3 separate regions of the Homo sapiens genome follow, and all the other regions are linked to region 2. The links come from fine-mapping of genetic effects on gene expression. A gene starts in region 2. Each other region holds a variant in brackets. All regions are shown on one strand. Distances are from middle to middle.

Region 1 (8,171 bases), 52 kb after region 2:
GTGGGTAAGGACCCCCATCCCCCAGAGCTCCCACCTGCACCTCCCTGGCCACGTGGCTGCAGAAAGTAGGGGAGGGGGTTGGGGCAACGGGCCTGGCCGAGAATCACCTGCTCAAGGTGAGCGGGAGGGCGGCCAGCGGGGCACGCGTAGGGGTGGCTCAGGGACAGGGTGGGCAGCACGGGCTGGGGTCATGGTGACGGGAGGGTCATACAGGGGTGGTCGTTGGACAGACTCGTGCTTGGAGAGGGAAACAGGCCGAGGGCCAACGTGAGGCGTGTTTGGTGTGTCAGAGGCTGCCTCGGAGACCGGGCAGCTCCCTTTTTGGCCCTGGCCTCAGTTTCCCCTCATTCGGAGGAGTCGCTGGTACTCAAGGCACCGCAGTGGGATTCACCCACAGGCGCCTGCAGGTTTCGGGAGGAGCCGGCCCACCACATGCTCCCTCCTTCCAGGAGCTCCCGCCCAGCCTGGACGAGTTCCTGCTCCCAGCCGAGGCCGACTATGCCCAGGACCTGTATGTCATCGGGGTCCAGGAGGGCTGTTCTGACAGGTAGGGCGGCTGCAGGCCCTGCAGTGCCTGCCCAGGGGCTGCCGTCTCTGAAGCAGCTGGGTGCTGAGACCTGTGGTCATGGCTGGGCACGGGTCTGCAGTGCCTGCCCGGGGGCTGCCATCTGTGAAGCTGCTGGGCGCTGATACCCGGTTCGTGGCCGGGCACAGATCTGCAGTGCCTGCCCGGGGGCTGCCGTCTCTGAAGCTGCTGGGCGCTGAGACCCGGGTGGCGGCCGGGCACGGGCAGCCTCCACGCCTGGGTGGGAGGCATGGGTCAGATTTTTTTCCAGTGGCAACTCGGAGAGTTTAAAATCAATGAGATTTGATTTTGGTAACAAACTGTTGGCGTGCGAGAGTAGAAGGGCAGCCGGAGCAGGGCCGGGCCCCAAGGCCTCCCGGGCCCCCATGTCATGGCGGGAACAGCAGGTGGCTGCCGCCCACACAGGTGCTCTGGGGGAAGGAGTTGAGGTGGGCCCCACCTCCCTGGCCCATGAGTCCCTCAGGCGGGAGGAGCTCTGCTCACTGGGGTCTCGGCGGGGGTCCAGGGGAGCCACTCAAGTGGAACTGGGGCCTGTGGCCCCCGGCAGGTCCCAACTCTGGCCCACCAGGCCTTCTGGCAATTGCTTCTCCGCGCAAGACACCAAGGCCAGGTCGTGGGGTTTCCCTGGTAGCTCCTCGAGGGGCTCTGGGCAGCAGGTCTGGGGGTGGCGGAGCTGGGAGGCCATGTCCCCCAGCCGGCCGTGCTTCCTCCTCTGCAGGCGGGAGTGGGAGACTCGTCTGCAGGAGACGCTGGGCCCGCACTATGTGCTGCTGTCCTCGGCGGCCCACGGCGTGCTCTACATGTCGCTCTTCATCCGCAGGGACCTCATCTGGTTCTGCTCAGGTGGGCGCGGCTGGAGGGGTGGGCGCGGCTGGAAGGTGGCAGCGTCCCACAGGTGAGCTGAGGGCTGCCCCTCCCACAGAGGTGGAGTGCTCCACGGTGACCACACGCATCGTGTCTCAGATCAAGACCAAGGGGGCCTTGGGCATCAGCTTCACCTTTTTTGGCACTTCCTTCCTCTTCATCACGTCCCACTTCACCTGTAAGTTGCTTGGTGCCCGCACCGCAGGTGCTGTGTGAGAACAGCTTCCTCTCCTGACCGGGACCCTGTCCAAGGCAGGGGTCCTGACCGCTGGCTTCATCTTCCACCCAGGGCCGTGGGGTGGGCACCACGCTTGCTAAGATGCACGCCAAGGACCCCCGGCAGACCCCGGCACCGAGGGCGTGCCGTGCTGGGCCCGTGCTCTGTCCTCCGAGGCGGAAATGTCACTGGCTGGGCCCGGCAGCGGATGCCCGGTGGGGTTGCGTCTGCCGGGGGTGCGCAGTCAGGGCACAGTCCAGAGGTGCGGCGCTTTAGGGAGACTCGAGCATCCGGAACCCTGTGGTCCCTACCCCATTTCTGTTCCCACAGCAGGTGACGGGAAGGTGGCGGAGCGGCTGCTGGACTACACCAGGACTGTACAAGCCCTGGTCCTGCCCAGAAATGTGCCCGACACCAACCCCTATCGCTCCAGCGCAGGTGAGGGCGTCCACGCTGCGTGTGGGTGGTGCCGCCGTGGTTCGCACACGGGCGCCCGTCGTTTTTAGGGCAGTTCTGAAGAGGCAGCGTCCTGAGCTTTGGGAAGCGAGGGCCGAAACGTCCAGTGCCCCCAGCGCATGGCCCCTCGCGGTTCTTTAGCACGGTTAGTGGGGTGGGCGGATCCTGTCCACTCGGCGTGGCCCACTAGCCTGGGTCCTGGTCCTCGCCACTGCCCGCCCCGCCGCCTCCCCTGGCTGTGTGGAGAGGAGCAGGGACGTGGCCATCGCCTGCCATGGGCATCGTCTGCTCCTGAGGCTGCTCCAGGTGCCTTCTGGAACTGTCCCAGTGCGAATCCCACCCCTGAGGGCCCGGCCCCACCGGCTGGCGCCCAAGACCCACTTCCCCTGAGAGCCACTCCCAGGCCATGTTCTGGGGAAGGGGAAGGACCTGCCGTCCCTCTGCCTGTGCCCACACATGGCCCACTGTGCCGCAGCGGACGTCACCACCCGCTTCGATGAGGTGTTCTGGTTTGGAGACTTCAACTTCCGCCTGAGTGGCGGGCGCACAGTCGTGGACGCCCTCCTGTGCCAGGGCCTGGTGGTGGACGTGCCGGCGCTGCTGCAGCACGACCAGCTCATCCGGGAGATGCGGAAAGGTGAGGGCCTGGGGGGGCGGGCATGGAGGGAGATGAGGAGAGGTGAGGGCCTGGGGGGGCGGGCGTGGAGGGAGATGAGGAGAGGTGAGGGCCTGGGGGGCGGGCGTGGAGGGAGATGAGGAAAGGTGAGGGCCTGGGGGGCGGGCGTGGAGGGAGATGAGGAGAGGTGAGGGCCTGGGGGGGCGGGCGTGGAGGGAGATGAGGAGAGGTGAGGGCCTGGGGGGGCGGGCGTGGAGGGAGATGAGGAAAGGTGAGGGCCTGGGGGGGCGGGCGTGGCGGGAGATGAGGAAAGGTGAGGGCCTGGGGGGGCGGGCGTGGAGGGAGATGAGGAAAGGTGAGGGCCTGGGGGGCGGGCGTGGAGGGAGATGAGGAGAGGTGAGGGCCTGGGGGGGCGGGCGTGGAGGGAGATGAGGAGAGGTGAGGGCCTGGGGGGGCGGGCGTGGAGGGAGATGAGGAGAGGTGAGGGCCTGGGGGGCGGGCGTGGAGGGAGATGAGGAGAGGTGAGGGCCTGGGGGGCGGGCGTGGAGGGAGATGAGGAGAGGTGAGGGCCTGGGGGGGCGGGCGTGGCGGGAGATGAGGAAAGGTGAGGGCCTGCGGCGGGTGGGGGGAGGGTGGGCGTGGTGGGAGATGAGGAGAGGTGAGGGCCTGGGGTGCGGCGGCTGGCACAAGCTGGTCTGAGCCAGTCCGAGTGCCCATCCTGTGGCAGGGTCCATCTTCAAGGGCTTCCAGGAGCCGGACATCCACTTCCTCCCATCATACAAGTTTGACATCGGGAAGGACACGTACGACAGCACCTCCAAGCAGAGGACGCCCTCATACACGGTGAGGCCTGCCCACCGCTGCGGTGCAGAGTGCTTCCAGGGCAGGCATCTCCCACAGCCGGGAACCGATGCCTGGCGTCAGGGGTCTGAGCCTGGACGGCCTGGACTTGAAACTCAGCTCTGCACCTTGGCCTTGTGGCAAGTCCCCTTTGGTGGAGAACGGCGCCCTCTCCATGGGTGTTTTCAAGGCTGGGTGAGCCGGCTGGCACACAGGGCACCAGCCATGCCCTCGCCTCCGGCCTGCAGAGCCTCTGCCCTCTGCCCGTTGCACCCTCGCTCACCCTCCTGCCAGGCCCATGGCTGCATCTCTGGGCATGTCCCGATATCTGGATATCTGCTGGAAGCCTCAAGAAGCCACTGAGGCAGGGCAGGGTAGGAGCAGCCGCTGTCCACAGGGTCTCTCCAGCGGCGAGGGACAGGCCCTGGCCCAGCTGGCCACAGACGCCAGGCAACAAAATGGGCATGAGTGTCAGGGGTCCCAGAAGGCTTCCTTGTGGGGGGCGCTTGAGAACAGCAGGGAGGTGAGCGGGCCACGCCCCACGGCTCCTCACAAGTAACTGGACCTCCTGCCTCTGCAATCTTCCCAAAGGACCGCGTCTTGTACAGAAGCCGCCACAAGGGTGACATCTGTCCTGTGAGCTACTCTTCCTGCCCCGGGATCAAGACGTCCGACCACCGCCCTGTGTATGGCCTCTTCCGGGTGAAAGTGAGGCCGGGGCGAGACAAGTCAGTGTTCTCCCGCTCACCTTCCCCCTTGGGCCTGGGGGTCGTGCC[G/A]TCGTCCCATGAGCTAAGAGGGTCCCTGTCATCGTGGGGTTCCACTTGGGGCTTTGTTCTGGGACCTTCAGGGCTGTGTTCCCCGGGATCGGTTGGACTCATCCTGGAGCAGGAGAAGGCAGGAAGGGGAGAGGCTCTGGAAAGTGAAGAGAGGCCCAGCTGGGGGGCTGGGTGTGGCCAGCTGGAGGGACGAAGGCCTTAAGCACTCAGGCATCCGCCCTGTCCTTCCTGCGGCTCTGTCCCAGGAACAGGCCTCCGTGTGCTTAGAGGCAGGGCCAATCTGGGCCAGTGCCCACCTAACAGCCCCTCATCCTGGCCCTGGGTGTCCTCTTAAATGCCCCCTCCTCCGGGGCCGGCCCCCTCCTAACGCCCCCTCCTCCTGGCCCTGGGTGCCCTCCTAACGCCCCCTCCTCCTCCACAGCATTCCGTTGGCAGCTGGCAAATTTGATAGAGAACTGTACTTACTAGGAATTAAAAGACGGATTTCGAAGGAGATTCAGAGGCAGCAAGCACTACAGAGTCAGAACTCCAGCACCATCTGCTCCGTTTCTTGAAGTTTGCTGAACGAGGACTCACAGCTGCAACGTGGGGTGATTGTATTGATCAAAACCCACTGGGAAGGACAAAGAGTTTGCCGCCTTTCGGGGATCCGAGGGACTGTGGCGACCGTGCCTCTGTGCCAGCGTCCCAGGAAGGAAGCCAACCCTGAGCGAGCCTGTCCTCTGTGGCAGGTCCACACGGTGTGGGTGGGCAGGGCTTGGACCCCCGTCTCCATGGCAGGTCCATACAGCATGGGTGGCAGGGTTTGGACCCGCCCAGCAGCACCACGGACCCCAGCCACTCTCGGGGGCAGACGTCAGAATCCGTTCCTGAGCAGCTCCTGTGCCCTGGGGGCAGTCACAGAGCCCCCCAACACCCCCGTGCTCTGCACCAGCCTCTCCCTCCACACCCGAAGCAGGCGTCCATCTGTGTCCTCCTGGCAGCCCCTCAAACACACACCACCCCATGTCACACGGGTATCCAGAGCAAGGCTGGATCTGGGCTAGGTGACCCCTGGGGCCTCAGACCTCTGAGTGGGCCCCAGAGCCCAGCTGAGGAAGCCACACAGCCTCCAGGACGTGGCACGGTTCCCCTCCACTTGGCTGCAAGTCGCCTGCCATGGGGCGAGGAGGCCTGCACCCCAGTATAAGGGCCTCCCCAGCTGAGTAAGAAGCTGCTTCCCCTCCTCTCATAGGCCAAGCCTATTGTGTGAAACCATCTCATGGTCTTGGTGACGTAGACCATTTTTGAAACCGTCTCATGGTCTTGGTGACGTAGACCGTTTGCTTCTTTAACTCCAGCCGCGGAATGACATTAGTGGAACCGGGCTAGGGAACTGCTGGAAGTTCAGGATGCCACCACCTTGAACACCTAGGCCAGGGATCCCCACCATGTCCCGGGTTTCTTTCTTCGAGAGTATAGAACCGTTCATTCTTGCTTTGTGTCCCATTCCATCTCTTGAAAAAATGTAGTCTTTGAATGTGTGAAAATCTAGGGACATTCAATCTAGTCTTTTAAATTATTTTTCCATATTTATATTTTTAAATAAATGCATATATTGAGTCTTAAAATCTCTTTCTGGCCAAAGACTGAAACCTGGAAGCAACAATATACATGCATATCCCGTTCTCACAATGTCCTTGTTTGAAAGGCTGTAAAATCCACAGGCAAAAAGTTTGGTCTCAACCCTCAACAGCTGACTATGATCTTGTCCGGTTCATCTCTGCTATCTTTAAAATCCTACATTCGGCTGGGTGCGGTGGCTCACTCCTATAATCCCAGCACTTTGGGAGGCTGAGGCAGATGGATCATCTGAGTGGTGGGCAAATCACAAGGTCAGGAGTTCGAGACCAGCCTGGCCAACATGGTGCGACCACCCCTGCATCTCTACTAAAATTACAAAAATTAGCCGGGTGTGGTGGCGGGCGCCTGTAATCCCAGCTACTGGGGAGGCTGAGGCAGGAGAATCACTTGAACCCAGGAGGCAAAGGTTGCAGTGAGCCGAGATTGCGCCACTGCACTCCAGCCTGGGCAGCAGAGCAAGACTCCATCTCAAAATAAATAAATACATAAAATCCTGCATTCCTAGTTCACTGCCCAAGAGATCAGCGTTAGATGGAAAAGAGTCTTTTGAGGAAAACACAAATACTTGAGACCTGATGAACCACGCTGGTTATCAACAATTCAGTGAATAATAGAAAACTTTTATTAGCAGCATCTTAAAAAGTAGGGAAACAAACACCCAGTCTCTTGATAAAAATGAGTCTCTTGGGCCAGGCGTGGTGGCTCATGCTTGTAATCCCAGCACTTTCGGAGGCCCAGGTGGGCAGATCACAAGGTCAGGAGTTCAAGACCAGCCTGGCCAAATGGTGAGACCACGCCCCCCCCCCCCCATCTCTACTAAAAATACAAAAATTAGCCGGGTGTCTGTTGTCCCAGCTACTTGGGAGGCTGAGGCAGGAGAATTGCTTGAACCTGGGAGGCGGAGGTTGTAGTGAGCCAAGATCCAAGATCGTGCCACTGCATCCCAGCCTGGGCGACAGAGCGAGACTCCTTAAAAAAAAAAAAAAAAAAAAAGTCGTCGATAGAAATTCCATTAATGAGAGGGCACAGCCAATCTCATCTAATTTCAGTCAACTAGTCTGATGTCCTGTATGTATAACATTTTGGGCTGGGTGTGGCGTGTGTAACATTTTGGGCTGGGTGTAATTCTAGCACTTTGAGAGGCTGAGGAGGGCAGATTGCCTGAGCTCAGGAGTTCGAGACCAGCCTGGATAACACAGTGAAACCCTGTCTGTACTAAAACACAAACAATTAGCCGGGTGTGGTGGTGTGCGCCTGTAGTCCCAGCCACTCAGGAGGCTGAGGTAGGAGAATTGCTTGAACCCGGGAGGTGGAGGTTGTAGAGAGCCAAGATTGCACAATTGCACTCCAGCCTGGGCAAGAGTGAGACTCGTCTCCAAAAAAAAAAAGACTTTGCCTGAACAAATGTGCCCTAAGTTTCAAATTAATTCATTGAAAATCTGTACCAAGATGTTTATGGTAATGGGGCTTCAAATGAGTCCGCTTTTATGGCTTCTTCCTAGGCCTCTTCTCCGACCCAAACAATTGTTAAAGAGATTCTGGTCCGACCCTGGAGTGTGTTCACGTGGCTTGACAGTAAGAGGCTCCAAGTCTTCCGGCGGCGGCGGTGGGGAGGGCAGGATATGACGTGTCTAGTAAGATCATGGATCGAAAGTCAGGTGATTCCCTTGGCACTCACCGCTAGATCTTAGATTAATGGAATTTCACTCAGAAAGGAGTTTAAATGAATGCAAATGATGTTGGCCAATCTCTGGAAAATAAAAGAATTGTTAAATACGGCCAGGCACAGTGGCTCACATCTATAATCCCAGCACTTTGGGAAGCTGAGGCAGGAGGACTGCTTGAAGCCAGGAGTTCGAGACCAGCCTGGGCAACCTAGTGAGACCACACCTCTAAAACAGCAATGAGCACGCCTATAGTCCCAGCTATTCAGGAGGCTGAGGTGGGAGGATCCGCTGAGCCCCAGTGGTTAAGGCTACCGTGAGCTGTGCTTGCATCACTGTACTCCAGGGCTAGCCTGGGCGACAGAGCCAGACCTCATCTCAAAAAAAAAAAAAAAAAAGCTGGCTCGATAGTAGTGGGTTCTTAGAACCTAATATTAGTGTCAACTTTGGTATCCTATCCTCCAGTGCTAAATTTGGCAAAAGAAAAAAAAAACGTGGCCAGGTGCGGTGGCTCACGCCTGTAATCCCA
Region 2 (8,171 bases):
GACAGGGAACCCCTGCAGGGGCCTGATGAACAAACGCCACAGAACAAACTCTACGGACCCTGCCTCCAGATCTGCTTCCTCTCCCCTGATTCCAGCTTCCCAGCCCTATTCCCTCCTCCTCCAGGAAGAGCTCCGTGTCAGTGCTCTCCACCTTGGAGGCCTTCATATGTTTTTTTGCCTGGACCACCCAGCTAACCGTCTCACAGAGACTGCCCCTTCCTCTCTCCAGGCCAAGCCTCCAGCTTCAGCGTCCAGGACTAAGGGTCTGTGTCAGGGGCTGAGGACAGTGTCCGGCAGGGAGCAGGCCTGCCCAGTAAACCTCCACAAGCACCCAGACATACTCGCCACTGCTATTTTACACCAGGTAGGAAAGAGGAGCAGAAGCTCACAGTGAGGGGCCGTCCTGCGTTCACTGAGACTGCTGCTCTGCTGGGGGCTCCCTGGAGGACCGCCACTGGCCCGCCAGTTGTCAGCAAAGAGCCAGGTCCACCCATCAGCCTCTGGCATTTCAGGCCCCTATCATAGGAGGCTATAAGCACAGGCTAGGGGTGCTGAGTGCCTGCCTTCTAGACCAACACTGTCCAGTGGAAATGTAACACCAGCCCCATGTGGAGTTTTACATTTCCCAGCAGCTATGTCAAAAACAAAAGAAACAGGTGAAATAAAATTAAATAGTATTTTGTTTAATCTGATACATCCAAGATATTGTCATTTTAATATGCAATAAAAAATGATTGATTCGATATTTGCATCCTTCACAACCTACCATGTAGTTTACACTCAGAGCCCAGCTCAGTCTCACAGCAAGCACCAGCGGCCCCCGTGCTGGACAGCATGGCTAATGGGAGGAGCTGACCCGTCGGAGGCACCAAGGTCACGCTGTGACCAAGGCTGTGGTGACGCAAAGGCAGCGGGTTTCCTGGCACAGCCTGGAGGTGCACCAGCCTGTCCTGTGTGCTCTGCATAATGTGGTACAGCAGTGGTCACAGAGCTTTGCACCAGATGCTGATTCCAGCCCACCTAGGGGGGTTCAGGGAAGTGGTGACACTTGTGTCCAGCCTCCAGGTGTGAGCAGGGGCAGAGACTTGGAGAATGGAGAAACCAGCGGATGCTGCAGGCAAAAGCAGCAAAGCCCCACCAGGAATAGTGATGGCCACCACCGGCGGGACACCTCCCAGCACTGGGTGGAGGCCTCTGCTGGCTCGCAGTCAGTCACCTGATGTCCCCATTCGCCCCTGCCATGCTTGTTGTCCTGGCAACCCCATTTCAGCCCTGAAACGTTTAGGTGCTCATCTTGCTCTATCTTAGAGATGAAGACCTGATGCTCAGAGACTAAGGAAGTTGAAAAAGGGCACACAGCGTCTCAGGGGCAGGCTGGGCCTTCAACGGAAGGGTCTATGGCCCAGAGGCTGGATGGGCTCGGGTGTAGGGTGCAGGAACCCTCCACTCCACATCAGGCTACAAACTGCTGAGAGCTGTCTCCGTGCACTCAGGATTAGGGAGAAGAGGGGGAAGAAAGACAGCCGCGCCCCCTGCAGGTGATGTGGTGATTCACACCCCTAGGAGCCAACAGAAGCCGCTGTCTAACATCCCTGCCCTGAGGTCCAGAGACCTTGCATTTTATGCCTAGGGCAGGGTTGGTTTCTGCAGCTATGGTCTCTCCCATAGCTTAGTGCCCACCCCGGTGGGACCACAGGGTTTCGGAGGACCCTAGAGGGTCGAGCCCTGGGCTCCTGGCTCTTGGGTTCTTTGAACTCGCGAGCGGCAAAAGGCGAGCCCCACGCCTGAGAGGCAGCATCCACCTCTGCATCCCCCTCTTTGGAAAGGGCAAACAATGACACCTCCTTCCGCGGAGGGTGCAGAGCGCCTCGACCACTGGGAAGAAGCAGATGGGGGCAGCGGGGCTGGGGCTGGGCCCTACCACGTGCTCCCTAACTCTGTTCAAACAGGTCAGGAATCTGACTCCTGAAAGGCAAATGTTAGCTGAGCAGATTGGCCCTGGTGCCACGTCAGCCGGACTGAAGCTCTCCCTGCACCGCCTGCGGCCCTGCTGGCGTGGCACGGATATCACCCCCTCCCTCACCAGCCGCCGGCCCAGCTGGGGACAAGGGTGGCTCCCACCCAGGGAGGACCTCAGCCGCTGCTGGGAGCTCAGCCTCCCGCGATGCCATCGGGCGGGCACCCCCACCACGGCGCCTGCCCTCTGGAAGGAGCAGCAGAGGAAGGCCGCGGCTCTTCCCTGCCCTTGCCAGGCAGGTGTGCAGGTGAGTGGGCCCGGCATGGCTGGCCGCTTCCTCAACCGCTCAGCCTCCCTCGGCTCCTCCGAAAAATGAGGGCACAGAGGATAGTGCCCACCTGTTCCCTGCGATCTTCCGCGGGAGGGCGTGGATGCTGCCTGGCCTGGCCGTGGCAGGCACAGGAGCGCCTACCCGCCTCACCCCTCCGCTGGGTCGCTCTGGCCGCCCGAGCGCCCGGGCCCACTCGCCACCGACGTGCACTCAGCCAAGGCTGGGACCCCAGCGCCCCTGTGGGGCTGGCGGCCGGGGGAACGAACCGAGTAGGCCGCACCTCCCCGGGAGGACAGCAGGGCTGGGGCCAGGGTGGGCCTGGGAGGGCCCGGCGCAGCAAAGGCGCAGGGCGGAGCTTGGGGACGAGGAGCCCGCGCGTCCCCCTTGCGAGTCGGCGGACACCCGGCTCCGCGCGGTGGCCGGGCCGCCCCTCCCTGCCCGGGCCTCTGTGCAGAGCGAAGGGACAGTAGAGGATGCGTCGGGGAAACCCCAGGACGCTGGCCAGGGACTGGCGGCAGCCATCGACCAACTTCCGGCGCCGCTCGGTGCCCGCGGCCACGCCGTAACCAGGCAACCAGCGCGCAGGCGCAGTCGGCCCTCCGCGTCCCGCAGCTCCGGCCGCTCCCGGCGCATGCGCGGCCGCCGCCGCCTGCCCTCCAGCCTCCCAGCCCAACGGAAGAATGCGAGGAGCGCGCCCGCGTCAGGGCCCCGCGCTTCTCAGCTGGGCGGAGTAGCCGTTCTCGGTGCGTGAGCCTGCTGGCATCGGTCCTGCAGACTGATTTCCCGCTTGTGGCCTTGATTGAAGAATCCCATCTCTTCTCACATCTTAAAACGAAAAAAGACTGGGAGAAAGAGCCAGCGTAAACAGGGCGACGTACTGGGACGGCCCCGGCGCGCCTGGCCGGGCAGGTGGCGAGGGGCGGGGCCAAGCGGTGAGGCGGCAGACGGACGCCGGAGGGGGGCGGGGCCACGGGCGGGGAAGGACGGCCGAGGGGCGGGGCCAAAGGGGCGGGAACGACAGGATGAGGCGGAGAAAGACGGACGACGGGCGGGGCTAAGGGGGCGGGACGAAAGAATGAGGCGAGGAACGACGGAAGAGGGGCGGGGCCAAGGGGAGCGGGAACTACAGGATAAGGCGTGGAAGACGGGCGGGGGGCGGGACGAAAGAATGAGGCGGGGAAGAACGGACGCCGGCGAGGGGCGGGGGCAGAGGGGGCGGGACAGAGGGATGAGGCGGGGAGGACGGACGCCGGCGAGGGGCGGGGCCGAGGGATGGGCTGTGAAGGGCTGAAAGAGAACGCGTCTGGGCCGACGAGCCGAGGGGCGGGGCCAGGGGCGGGGCGCGCGCTGATGTCGTAAGCCGGACACGTCGGCGGCGCGGCGGCCGCGGAGACCCGAGCCGGATGTGCCAAGATGGCTGCGGCGGCTGAGGTGTCTGTGCTCGTCGCCAGCGTCGGGTGGGCTTTCGCCCGCGGCTCCTGAGGGATCGGTCTCAGCCGCGCGGGTGAGGGGGCGAGCGCGGGTGAGGGGGCGAGCGCGGGAGGAGGAAGGCGGAGGCCGGCCGGCGGAGCCAGGCCGTGGAGGTCGGGGCGCGGAGGAGAGGAGGCGGCTGGGCCCAGCCCCGAGCGGGCGGTGCATCTCGGGTCCCGCCGGGGCCGGTCGAGGGGACAGACGTCCGGGCCCCCGGGCCAGAGCGGAAGGCCGGACGCGGCGCGGGCCGCCGTGGGACTCGAGGGACTGACGTGGACCCGGCTGGGCTGCGGTGACGCCGGTTCCCGGGGCGGGAGGCTGGACCCCCAGGCACCCCTCGTAAGACTCTTAACTTTTCAAATGAGCGTGTCTTGTCCTCACCGGCTAGAAGGCTTCCTTAGCGATGCTGGTGAAGAGACACATTTACATTTGAACCAAAGAGCAGAGTTGTTTGTTTGTAATTTCTTGATTGGGCGATCAGGATGTTGCAACAGAGGCCGAGGGTTAGAGGAGTGTGTGTGATCCGGCTCGCCCCTTTGTGATGGAAGTGTTACAGTAGAGCCTTCAGAAACATCAGAGCCATTTAAAGTCAGTTTTTGCCGCTTAAGAACACTTTTAAATGGCTTGTAAGTTGGGTGTGGATTGTATATTAAGATTTTGTTTTACATGTGTGATGCCGATGTTAACCAAAGAGGTATTTCCCATCCCCCATGTGGCAATACGAAGCAAACGGAACCGCAGACGGTTCTTCCTAGAAGTGATACTTTTGCAAGTTTCAGCACAATGCAGCCTCCCTGCGTTTTTTCCTCATCCCCTTTCTTAAGTTTCAGGTGCTGGTATCTTGTAGACAAGAGGCAAAATAGCGTGTCTTTCTTGTTCCTTGTTCCTCGTTTACTGTTAATAGTGGTTACTACAGTGAGTCTCAAAATTGTACTTAAAGTTTTCTTTGAGGCAGTGGGCACTTTTTTTTTCTTTTTCTTTGTCTTTTTTTGCCAAATCCAGCAAGAGGTCATGGTAGTGGGTAAATGTTAATGTGATTTCTTCTTCTGTAAGCATCTTTCATGAATACCAGGGTCTTCGTCATTTTCATCAGTGTTAGGCTGCTGGCCTCCTCTGTCGCTGGCTTCCTCTTCAACATCTAACTGTATGTGGTTGCGATTCTAACTTAGAAGAGTTGGAGTTGATCATGTCTTTGTGTCAAGCATCCCACAGTCTGACAGGGCGTCACTAGCAGCCACCGTGAGGGAGACTGTAGGCAGTAGGTAAACTCAGGGGCTTCCTGGCACACTATTGTTTTCCTCACTTAAAATATGAAGCCAGTGGCAGCAAGAGGAGAGGGGTGTGCATGCATTTTAAATGCCTCAGTTCTGTAGCCAGAACTGTACTAAAAAGAGTTTTGCTTAGGTATCCACATGGTTACAAGGCAGTTTAACTGACTAGCTAGGTTTATGAATACTGCATTTTCAAGATCAGCTGGCCTCTTTGGAACAATAAAAGAATTAGATGACTTGAGGTTACAGAATAAAATTCCCTGGGCCGGGCGCGGTGGCTCATGCCTGTAATCCCAGCACTCTGGGAGGCTGAGGCGGGCGGATCACGAGGTCAGGAGATCGAGACCATCCTGGCTAACACGGTGAAACCCCGTCTCTACTGAAAATACAAAAAAAAATTAGCCGGGCGAGGTGGCGGGCGCCTGTAGTCCCAGCTACGCTGGAGGCTGAGGCAGGAGAATGGCGTGAACCCCGGGGGGCGGAGCCTGCAGTGAGCCGAGATCGCGCCACTGCACTCCAGCCTGGGTGAAAGAGCAAGACTCCGTCTCAAAAAAAAAAAAAAAAAAAAAAAGAATAAAATTCCCTGTAGTGGTGACATAGGTGATAGGCAGTTGCATTGTTTTTCTCCTGGTGAGTAGAGAAAAAGATCAAAAAAATCAGTTCAAGTCACAAGATTGTTCCAAATGAAAGTGGCATGTTGCTAAAAAGCTCTCAATTAGGGAGCATGAAGGTTGGAATGCTCCTTGTAAGTGATAATGTTTGCCATAAAAAAGCTCTTAGTCTAGGAGAGCTGCGGAATAATTTTTTTTTTTTTGAGACGGAGTCTCGCTCTGCCCAGGCGGGAGTGCAGTGGCGCGATCTCAGCTCACTGCAAGCTCCGCCTCCCAGGTTTACGCCATTCTCCTGCCTCAGCCTCCCGAGTAGCTGGGATTACAGGCGCCCGCCACCACGCCCGGCTAATTTTTTGTATTTTAGTAGAGACGGGGTTTCACCGTGTTAGCCAGGATGGTCTCGATCTTCTGACCTCTTGATCTGCCCGCCTCGGCCTCCCAAAGTGCTGGGATTACAGGTGTGAGCCACCGTGCCCGGCCACCCCTGTTAAACAGCAGGTGGGATTAGGACATCCCAGAATCCACTGTGAGTAGAATCTCATAAGATTAAACCCGGGTTTTTTAGGAAAAAATAATCACATCGATTCTCGCATTTTATAGACAAAAATACATTGCAGAAAGAGGAGTGGCTGCCTCGAGCCACTCACCTGGACACTCAGTTTTGCTCTCACAGCAGCAGCCAAGGAATAAACCTCTAGGCCCGTGCTCTGTGTTTAAAGCAAACAAAAGCTTTTGAGGATGATAAGGATCTTCCCGGGGAAGGCCATGTCTTGAGAGATGAGGTAGGACCCCAGTTCTGGCAGCAGAGTTTCAGGAGGTGCTTGGAAGTTTGCGTGTTCTGGCCGTGGTTGCAGGTGTCGCTGTGTCTGCTGTGGCTGTGCAGCTGGTAGGACCCAGTGGAAGATAATGCCAGTGCACAGATCAGAGGAAGATGCTCTGCCTGTTCTCCTTTCAGTCCATATAAAATAGAGCTGTGAACATTCTTTGTTTTCAGATGAGAGCCTAAAACCTCCATGAAGCCTTTGCTGCTGTTCCTAGTAAATAGCTTGACTTAAAATACATTGATCAGTGTTTTCTTCTTTTTTTTTTTGAGACAGTTTCACTCTGTCGCCCAGGCTGGAGTGTTGTGGCTTGAACAAGGCTCACTGCAGCCTCAACCTCCCTGGCTCAAGCGATCTTCCCACCTCAGCCTCCCGAGTAGTTGGGACTACAGGCACGCACCACCACGACCGGCATTTTTTTTTTGGTGATGGGGTATCGCTGTGTGTTGCCCAGGCTGGTCTCAAACTGCTGAACTCGAGTGGTCCTCCTACCTCCCAAAGTGCTCGGCTTACAGGTGTGAGCCACTGCACCTGGCCAGTGTTTTCTTCTTTTATCTGAATATCAGAAAGATTTCCAAGAGACCAAAATAATATACATCTGCAAAGATGTGTGGATTGGCCAGGCACGGTGGCTCACGCCTGTAATCCCAGCACTTTGGGAGGCCGAGGCGGGTGGATTATGAGGTCAGGAGATCAAGACCATCCTGGCTAACATGGTGAAACCCCATCTCTACTGAAAAGACAAAAAATTAGCCTGGCATGGTGGCAGGTGCCTGTAGTCCCAGCTGCTCAGGAGGCTGAGGCAGGAGAATGGCATGAACCTGGGAGGCGGAGCTTGCAGTGAGCCGAGATCGCACCACTGCACCCCAGTCTGGGCGACAGAGCAAGACTCCGTCTCAAAAAAAAAAATGTGTGGATTAAACTACAGAGTCCTCCCCTTTGGTTTAATTTTTCCTTTGATTGGCTAAACTTATCTGTTTGTTCATGAGGGTGGTGCTGACAAGAAGAAAGACTGATAGAAAGAAAAGAACTTTCCTAAAGATATAGTCCTTGAATTTTTGCCTTAAGAGGCCAGGTTAACTATTCAAGTTTGTATCTACTATGTTTTATTTAAAAACTGATGGAGGTTTTTGCCCCTTTCTTTTCTGTAAGAGGTTTCTTGGCAATTCTGCCTGTTGTTGAAAGTGTTGGAATCCAGTCTGTGCCTTGTAAAGCTGCTTTAAGTTTCCTGGGAGTTTCCATTCCAGGCACAGTTACGGCTCCAGTTCAAAGGTAACATCTTGCTGGTGGTCCTTTCAGACCTTAAGCCAGTCACAGTACAAAAACGGAGACCTATGAAGAGGTGTGATAAAAGGCATTTAGATGAATATATTTATTTTGCAGTGCTTTTTAAAAAAATGATTGTGTCACTTTTTATTTATTTATTTTTTTAAAATAGAGACCGTCTTGCTCTGTTGCCCAGGCTGGACCGCGGTGGTATAATCATAGCTCACTGCAGCCTCGAACTCATGGACACAAGTGATCTTCCTTCCTTAACCCCCTGAGTCCCTGGGACTACAGGTGTGTGCCACCATGTCTGGCTAACTTTCTTCTTTTGTAGAGACAAGGTCTTGCTATGTTGCCCAGGCTGGTCTCGACCTCCTGGGCTCTGGCAGTCCTTCCACCTTGACCTCCCAAAGTGCTGGGATTACAGGCATGAGCCACTGCACC
Region 3 (8,136 bases), 33 kb before region 2:
TGTGTCGGGGGTCCAGGCAGGAGCCGGACTGGACCTCAGGGAAGAGGCTGACCCGGCCCCTCTTGCGGCAGGCTTCACCGGCCAGAACTGTGAGGAAAATATCGACGATTGTCCAGGAAACAACTGCAAGAACGGGGGTGCCTGTGTGGACGGCGTGAACACCTACAACTGCCGCTGCCCGCCAGAGTGGACAGGCGCGTATACGGGTCGCCGCAGGGCGGGGTAGCCGGGGCGGGGCTGCTACCCACTTACTAAACTGCACTCACAGGCATAGCGGGGAGCAGCCGAGACCCTGTCCCAGGCCAGGCAGACTAGGGTTGGCCGAGAAGGACAACATGATGGGGGCCCCACTTCCCGTGGCCAGGGTCTGGTGCCCCTCACCTCGGGGGTCAGCACAGACAGGGCCCTGGTTGGTCTGTGTGGGCCGTTTGCAACCTGGCTCCAGGCAGCCCCTGTGCCCAGTGGGGTGTCCTGGCATTGAGGGCCTTCAGCACCCCACTCAGGCCACGCTTCCTGGGCCAGTCACAGGGATGCCTGGATGAACAGACAGGCCCTGTGTTCGGGAATTACCCTCTGGTGGGGTGACGGGCAAAGGTGCACCCCGACGCAGCAGTGTCCACAGAGCACAAAGAGGAGGCAAGACTCCATGGTGCTGGGCCTGCAGAGGAAGGAGTGATTTAGGCTGGCGGTGGGTGGAGGAGTCAGCCCAGGAAGGCTTCCTGGAGGGGGCGGCATTGCCACCCTGCGTCTTAGGGGACAGGGAGCTCAGGGAGTGGCAGCTGCCCGGGGCCGACAGCTCCTGTTCCCTGCAGGTCAGTACTGTACCGAGGATGTGGACGAGTGCCAGCTGATGCCAAATGCCTGCCAGAACGGCGGGACCTGCCACAACACCCACGGTGGCTACAACTGCGTGTGTGTCAACGGCTGGACTGGTGAGGACTGCAGCGAGAACATTGATGACTGTGCCAGCGCCGCCTGCTTCCACGGCGCCACCTGCCATGACCGTGTGGCCTCCTTCTACTGCGAGTGTCCCCATGGCCGCACAGGTGAGTGCCTTGAGGCCCAGGTGGGCGCAGGGGGCTCACATGGGCCAGGCCTGAGCTGTGTGACCTCACCCAGGGACTGTGGCCCTCCTGCACCCAGGATAACCTGAAAGGGCCTTTCTGGTCAGGGAGGCCGGTGGTCGCTGTGAGTCCCCCGGAACGTCCCAAGTGTCACGGGATGCCCGACGGGGTCACGGCGGGCAGCTCCTCCTGGGGTGTCAGTGGGGTTGGACCCCAGCCGTGGGTGGTGTGCCATGCCTGGCCCAGGGGCCGTGCCCACTGACCGCCGCTGCCTGCCCAGGTCTGCTGTGCCACCTCAACGACGCATGCATCAGCAACCCCTGTAACGAGGGCTCCAACTGCGACACCAACCCTGTCAATGGCAAGGCCATCTGCACCTGCCCCTCGGGGTACACGGGCCCGGCCTGCAGCCAGGACGTGGATGAGTGCTCGCTGGGTAGGTGCCAGCACAGGGGGTGCGGCCAGGTGGGGGTGGCAGCCTGGCCCCAGAACCGATGAGAAGTCGATTCTGGCTTCAGGGGGTGCCCAGTTAGATGGGGGATGGGACCCTGCCAGTCCGATGGGGGTGGTGTGCAGTGAGGTGTTGCAGGGGCCAGGGTGCCTGGAGCAGCCTCTCACCCGTGTGCCCTCGCCAGGTGCCAACCCCTGCGAGCATGCGGGCAAGTGCATCAACACGCTGGGCTCCTTCGAGTGCCAGTGTCTGCAGGGCTACACGGGCCCCCGATGCGAGATCGACGTCAACGAGTGCGTCTCGAACCCGTGCCAGAACGACGCCACCTGCCTGGACCAGATTGGGGAGTTCCAGTGCATCTGCATGCCCGGTGCGTCGGCCGGGGCCAGGGCGGGAAACCGAGTCGAGGCTGGGCAGCCTTGGAGGGGCAGCCCCGGGAACATCTGTGGGTTGCTTCCGCTTTCCCCAGCCTCCATGCCTTCTGGGCCCACAGCCTGCACAGGGCATGGGGAAACTGAGGCCAGGCCACAGGGCCAGCAGAGCACGGGGGCAGTGCTAGGCAGATGAGGGTGCCGGGCCAGGGGCCACGGGCTGCAGGGGAGCGGGTGCGCAGGGGGCCCGTGGTGGCTGGGACACTGGGCTGGAGGCAGGGTTCGTTTCTGTCCCAAGTCCACAGCTGTGCCCAGTGGGGCACTGGGGCCGCGCGTGCCCCCCTCACTGTTGCCCCACCCCACAGGCTACGAGGGTGTGCACTGCGAGGTCAACACAGACGAGTGTGCCAGCAGCCCCTGCCTGCACAATGGCCGCTGCCTGGACAAGATCAATGAGTTCCAGTGCGAGTGCCCCACGGGTGAGGGCCACCCCCGCCCCCTGCCCCCGGGTCGTCTGCACCCTGGCCTCCTGAGGGGTGCCTGGGCGTGGGTTGTGTCCCCTGCCCCCGGGCCATCTGCACCCCGGCCTCCTGAGGGGTGAGGGCCGCCCCCACCCCCTGCCCTCGGGCCGTCCGCACCCCGGCCTCCTGAGGGGTGAGGGCCGTGGGTTGTGTCCCCTGCTCCTGGGCCGTCTGCACCCCGGCCTCCTGAGGGGGGCCTGGCCGTGGATTGTGTCCCCTGCCCCTGGGCCGTCTGCACCCCGGCCTCCTGAGGGGTGCCTGGCCGTAGGTTGTGTCCCCTGCCCCTGGGCCGTCTGCACCCCGGCCTTCTGAGGGGGGCCTGGCCATTGGTTGTGTTCAGATTCCCAGGAGAGCGAGGGTTTTGCCTCATGAGTGGATGGGAGTGTTTTCAGACTTCCCCGAAGGAAGGGCAGGGCCCAGTGGGGAGTGGGAGCTTGCCCAGGGGTCGCGGTGGAGCCCAGGGCCAGGAGATCCTCCTTGATCTGGGTGCAGCCCCTTCTGCCTGGAGAGAAGGGTATACCAGGAGCTGCAGTGCCCAGACAGGGAGGAGGCTCCAGCCTGGCTTTCTGAGGGCTCGATGCTGGGAGGGAGGCCAGCCTGCCCTGTCCTGCCATGTCCCCTGCCCAACGGCACGCCAGCGACAAGGGTATGCAGAGAACCACGTGGGGCAGGTTGGCCTGCAATGGAGATGATGGCTGCCCGGGGCGGACTTGGAGGAACTCTCAGGGGCCTGGGTGAAAGGTGTTTCCATCTGTCCCAGAGCTGGGGGCCGGGGCGCAGAGCCCAGGGAGGCGTTGCCAGCCCAAGCCTAGGCTCCCAAGACATAGATTACCCGTCCCAGACACTGGAGCGAGGGGAGCCCCATTCTCAGCCCGGCTCCACTGTAGCCATAGCAACCCAGTCGGTTTGGGAAAAAGGCCCCTTCTGTGGGAGCGAGGGCGTGTGGTGCTGGGGGAGGGGCTTTGATCCGGGGAGCGGGCAGCGGGAGGCAGGGAGAGCTGGAGCTGGCTGAGCTCAGGCTGAGTGTGCCCTGGGGAGCCCAGCCAGGCGCTCACTGCTGGGGTCTGGCCAGGGGTCCCTGAAGGGCCATAGTGCTGTTGCACATGACTCCCTCCCCTCCCCTCCCCGGCCCCAGGCTTCACTGGGCATCTGTGCCAGTACGATGTGGACGAGTGTGCCAGCACCCCCTGCAAGAATGGTGCCAAGTGCCTGGA[C/T]GGACCCAACACTTACACCTGTGTGTGCACGGAAGGTGCGGGCTGGCGCCCACCAGCGGGGAGGGACTGGGGACGGGACAGGGCACTCAGGGCAGTGAAACTGACAAGGTCATGGACACCTTGGTCTGGGCCACCTGGTCCAGAGGCCGAGAGCACAGCTCAGCCCCAATCCTGAGTAGGTGGGAATGCCACGCTCGGAGCCCTCCTCAGGTTGGCACAGGTGACCCCAGGTCTGGTCATGGGTGTCCCGGGGGCCGCCAGTCCTAAGTCTTCCTGTGCCCGCCCCTCCCACGGTCCAGGGTACACGGGGACGCACTGCGAGGTGGACATCGATGAGTGCGACCCCGACCCCTGCCACTACGGCTCCTGCAAGGACGGCGTCGCCACCTTCACCTGCCTCTGCCGCCCAGGCTACACGGGCCACCACTGCGAGACCAACATCAACGAGTGCTCCAGCCAGCCCTGCCGCCACGGGGGCACCTGCCAGGACCGCGACAACGCCTACCTCTGCTTCTGCCTGAAGGGGACCACAGGTGGCCGGCCAGGCGGGTGGCCGGCGGGGGGCCAGTGGGCAGGGCGGGCCTGAGGACTGACCGACACGTGCCACCCCTTCAGGACCCAACTGCGAGATCAACCTGGATGACTGTGCCAGCAGCCCCTGCGACTCGGGCACCTGTCTGGACAAGATCGATGGCTACGAGTGTGCCTGTGAGCCGGGCTACACAGGTGAGCGGCCCTGCACGTGGGGGCTGACTGCACTGTGCTCAGAGGTCAAGGTCAGCCACTCTGCCCTGGGGCTGCTGAGGGGTTGGGTGAGGGCTTTGGTGCTGCCCACCTGGGCAGACCGTGGTCTGCAGCAGAGATTGCAGCGGGACCAGGGCTATAACTGGCAGCACGATGGGTCCCCCCGACCCCTCTTGTCTCCGGTCAGAGCTGTCCCAGGCCGTGTTGGCAGAGTGGCCCAGCAGGCCAAGAGGGAGCAGCCAGCCCTGAGGCCAGGCTTAAGTACCTTCTGCCTCTGTGGCTCACCAGCACCTTTGAGCAGGTCCCTCTGCCTCTCTGGGCCTCAGATTCTCATCAGTCAGGGCTGCAGTAGCCCCTGCCCCTGGGGCCCCTGGGAGGATGACTTGAGTGGGCACTGGTGCCCGGGGAGGCTGGCACATGGCACATTGTGATCCAAGATGGTTTCTGACACCTGGAAGGATGTGGCCAGAAGGGTGATCGCCCCGGCTCAACAGACAGGGAAATCGAGGTTGACGTGGGTGGGACCCCCTGGGCGCTGGGCCTCGGAGTCTGACCCGCCCTGCCCTTAGGGAGCATGTGTAACATCAACATCGATGAGTGTGCGGGCAACCCCTGCCACAACGGGGGCACCTGCGAGGACGGCATCAATGGCTTCACCTGCCGCTGCCCCGAGGGCTACCACGACCCCACCTGCCTGTCTGAGGTCAATGAGTGCAACAGCAACCCCTGCGTCCACGGGGCCTGCCGGGACAGCCTCAACGGGTATGCGGCGGGGCCGATCATGGGGACACATCAGTCCTAAACCCTGGGAGCTCTGCTGCCAGGAGGGTGGCACCTGCACAGAGCTTGAGATGGGCCAGAAACGGGCCTCGGACGGGGCTGGGTGGCAGGGAGCTCCCCTCGGGGACGCACATGCCTCTGGGTCCTCAGTCAGACTACAGTCCACACCCAGCAGCTGTGTGCTGCGTGTCCTTGTGGGCTGCATGGTGTGCTCAGGACACAGGCCCACAGTGACCCTGGAACACGTTTCCATGGTAACAGCCGCAAGTGTTTCTGATGCCCATGATGTGCCTGGCAGCACTCTGCCTGGATGGGACCATTTAAATCAGCAGGGACCCCATTGCCCTCATTTGGCGCAGAGAAGGCACGTGCTTTGTTCGGGGCCACACAGCGGGCAAGTGGTGGGGGGCTTTTCGCAGCACCCTACTGCCCTGCACTTGGCATGGTCCCCTCGCTAATGAACCAAACCCCTGCCGCAGTCTTGGGTATGGGAAGCGCTGCGGCCCCCACTTTTTTCTTTATTTTGAGACAGAGCCTTGCTCTGTTGTCCAGGCTGGAGTGCAATGGCATGATCTCAGCTCACTGCAACCTCCACCCCTCAGGTTCAAGTGATTCCCCTGCCTCAGCCTCCCGAGTAGCTGAGATTACAGGCATGTGCCACCACACCTGGCTAATTTTTGTATTTTTAGTATATATGGGGTGGGGGAGTTTCGCCATGTTGGCCAGGCTGATCTTGAACTCCTGGCCTCAAGTGACTCAGCCACCCCCGCCTCCCAAAGTGCTGGGATTACAGGTGTGAGCCACAGCGCCCAGCCTGCCCCCACTAAAGGACTCTGCGAGTCTGAGTGGATGGGCACCTCCGCCAGCCCATAGGGCATTGCAGACCCGGGAGTGCCCAGGCCCCGGCCGTGCTGCTCGGGCCTCCCTCGACCTGCAGTGTGGTCCCCCTTGCAGGTACAAGTGCGACTGTGACCCTGGGTGGAGTGGGACCAACTGTGACATCAACAACAATGAGTGTGAATCCAACCCTTGTGTCAACGGCGGCACCTGCAAAGACATGACCAGTGGCTACGTGTGCACCTGCCGGGAGGGCTTCAGCGGTGAGTGGGCTGCGCGTTTCTCAGTGCAGAGGGCCGCCCTCGAGTCTGGGGAGCTGGAGACACAGGATCGGGACCCAGGTCCAGCCAGCACCATGCATGGTGTCTCCCTCCCGTGGCAAAGCCTTAGCTCCAGGCCTCTGGCTCTTGGAGATGAGGAGGGGCCTGGGGTGGGGAGCAGGCCCAGGGCTGCTGTTGTGGGGCCCTGCCAAGGTGCCTGGGAGTGCTGGACATGCCGAGTGCTGTCCCCTTCCCTCCAGGTCCCAACTGCCAGACCAACATCAACGAGTGTGCGTCCAACCCATGTCTGAACCAGGGCACGTGTATTGACGACGTTGCCGGGTACAAGTGCAACTGCCTGCTGCCCTACACAGGTGAGGGGTGGGTGGGGCCTGTGCTGGAGGGGGCGGGGCCTATGTGGGAGGGGCGGGACCTGTGCTGGAGAGGGCGGAGCCTGTGCTGGAGAGGGTGGGGCCAGGGGTGGGGGCGGCCTGGGAAGCCGTGACTGGAGGGTAAAGTGGTGGCTTTCTTGGGGCGGGGCCTTCCAGAAGGTTCTGCGCCTCACTGAGTGCCTTAGGCCCCTGCAGTATGTGGGCCTTCTCCCGGGGGTGGGGTTGGCAGATTAGCAAAGATACAGGATGCCTGGGAGAAAATTTTCATGCAAGCATGTGTTTTACCTGGCAAGCCTGCCGCAAGACACAGGTAAGATGCAGGTGAATCCTTAGCAGGGCCGGGCCTGGGTCACTGGGCTCCGTGCTCCCGGCGCCCACCCTGCTGGGGTCTCTGGGGGCCGGGCTTCCCCACCCCCGCCAGCCGGACCTGAGGGATTCCTTTGATGGCGGGCTCTCTTTGTGTGAGCGGAACAAGGAGCCCTCTGTTTGGGCTGAGCGGGGAGGGGGATGTTCCCCCAACTGTCCAGCCCCTGCTATGAACCCAGCCAAGGGGATCACAGGAAATGATCTCCTCTAGAAAAGACAAAGAAGAGTCCACAAGCACCGGGGTCCTGGCGCTCCCCAGGAGCGGGCAGAGGGTGCTGCCACGGGGCCTGGTCAGGGAGGGCCTGCCTGGGCCAGGCAGCCGGGCTGGAGGTCCCACGCCTGCGGTTCCCATGACATCCAGCAGCCTGTGGCCAGAACGCTGTTTTCTTTGACCGAAGTTAAGGACCTGGGTTTTCTCTCCTGTGTCAGTCAGTGAGGACCCTCCCTCCACGGCTGGGCGCCCCTGTCCCTTTCAGACACGTCGATCGGGCCGGCAGGAGGAGCGGCGGTGCTGACCCGCTTCCTATCTGCCCGCTTCCTGCTTCCTTTCGCACAATTGTCGGAAACTCTGGCGCAGTTCCTGCCTGCCCGGGTCACCGTGGAAACCAATAGGAAGAGAGGCCCTGGAAAGTCGCCCCAGCAGGCCAGGGAGATAATGGGGGACAGGGAAGATAACGCAGTCCCCACGGCTATAAACAGGAAGCTCGGCCATGGGCTTGTGCAGAAAAAGGCCCTCGGCTGTGCACGTGGTTCCCACATAGCCTTTGCCAGACACCCTGCGTGGCCCTGGAGGTCTCCAGGCCGTGCCCCGTGCCCCGACACGCAGGATGTGCTGGGGGCCTGGGCCTGTCCCCTCCATCGCAGCCCTTGTTTGTTGGCCTCCCGTGATGGGCGTTTGCTGCCTGTGACACGGAGCCCCAGGATTAGTTTCAGGCCTCGGTCTCAGGCCAGGGCCTTTCCTCGTCACCCAGAGATGAGGGGGCTTGCGTCCGGGGTGGGCCCAGGTCCCTGCAGTGTCGTGGAGCCCACCCGACTGAGGCCGCCTCTCCTGGTGCAGTCCTTGTTCCTGGGCACGCCTGGTGGGGTGAGGCCTAGGCTGTGCCCCGCTGCCAACCGGGAATGAGGGGTGGCTTCTG

What was found.
Region 1: its variant is fine-mapped to the expression of SEC16A in fibroblasts (GTEx, PIP 0.92).
Region 3: its variant is fine-mapped to the expression of SEC16A in whole blood (TOPMed, PIP above 0.99).

The regions. Positions count from the first base shown.
Region 1 is chr9:136,426,413-136,434,583 of GRCh38, reverse strand. It overlaps INPP5E (inositol polyphosphate-5-phosphatase E), which reads left to right. Exons shown (of 10, transcript NM_019892.6): 3 at 450-547; 4 at 1,305-1,429; 5 at 1,509-1,628; 6 at 1,998-2,105; 7 at 2,599-2,760; 8 at 3,467-3,582; 9 at 4,171-4,307; 10 at 4,777-5,965. The coding sequence ends at 4,909. Among named protein-coding and RNA genes, the nearest start is that of INPP5E, 9.3 kb to the left of the region's middle. The variant G/A (reference allele first, on the strand shown) is at 4,356.
Region 2 is chr9:136,478,559-136,486,729 of GRCh38, reverse strand. It overlaps SEC16A (SEC16 homolog A, endoplasmic reticulum export factor), which reads left to right and starts at 3,690. Exons shown (of 32, transcript NM_014866.2): 1 at 3,690-3,792; 2 at 7,900-8,021. C9orf163 (chromosome 9 putative open reading frame 163) reads right to left here and starts at 3,235. Exons shown (of 1, transcript NR_172629.1): 1 at 663-3,235. RefSeq lists silencers at 2,578-3,007, 3,158-3,337, 3,408-3,517, 3,748-4,067 and enhancers at 2,307-3,051, 3,797-4,542.
Region 3 is chr9:136,511,501-136,519,636 of GRCh38, reverse strand. NOTCH1 (notch receptor 1) reads left to right here. Exons shown (of 34, transcript NM_017617.5): 5 at 72-194; 6 at 813-1,046; 7 at 1,345-1,500; 8 at 1,700-1,885; 9 at 2,252-2,365; 10 at 3,543-3,656; 11 at 3,921-4,154; 12 at 4,237-4,347; 13 at 4,935-5,127; 14 at 6,100-6,245; 15 at 6,503-6,616. MIR4673 (microRNA 4673) reads left to right here and starts at 11; the gene lies at 11-69. The region is part of intron 1 of LOC124902310 (a long non-coding RNA gene); the gene reads right to left. The variant C/T (reference allele first, on the strand shown) is at 3,622.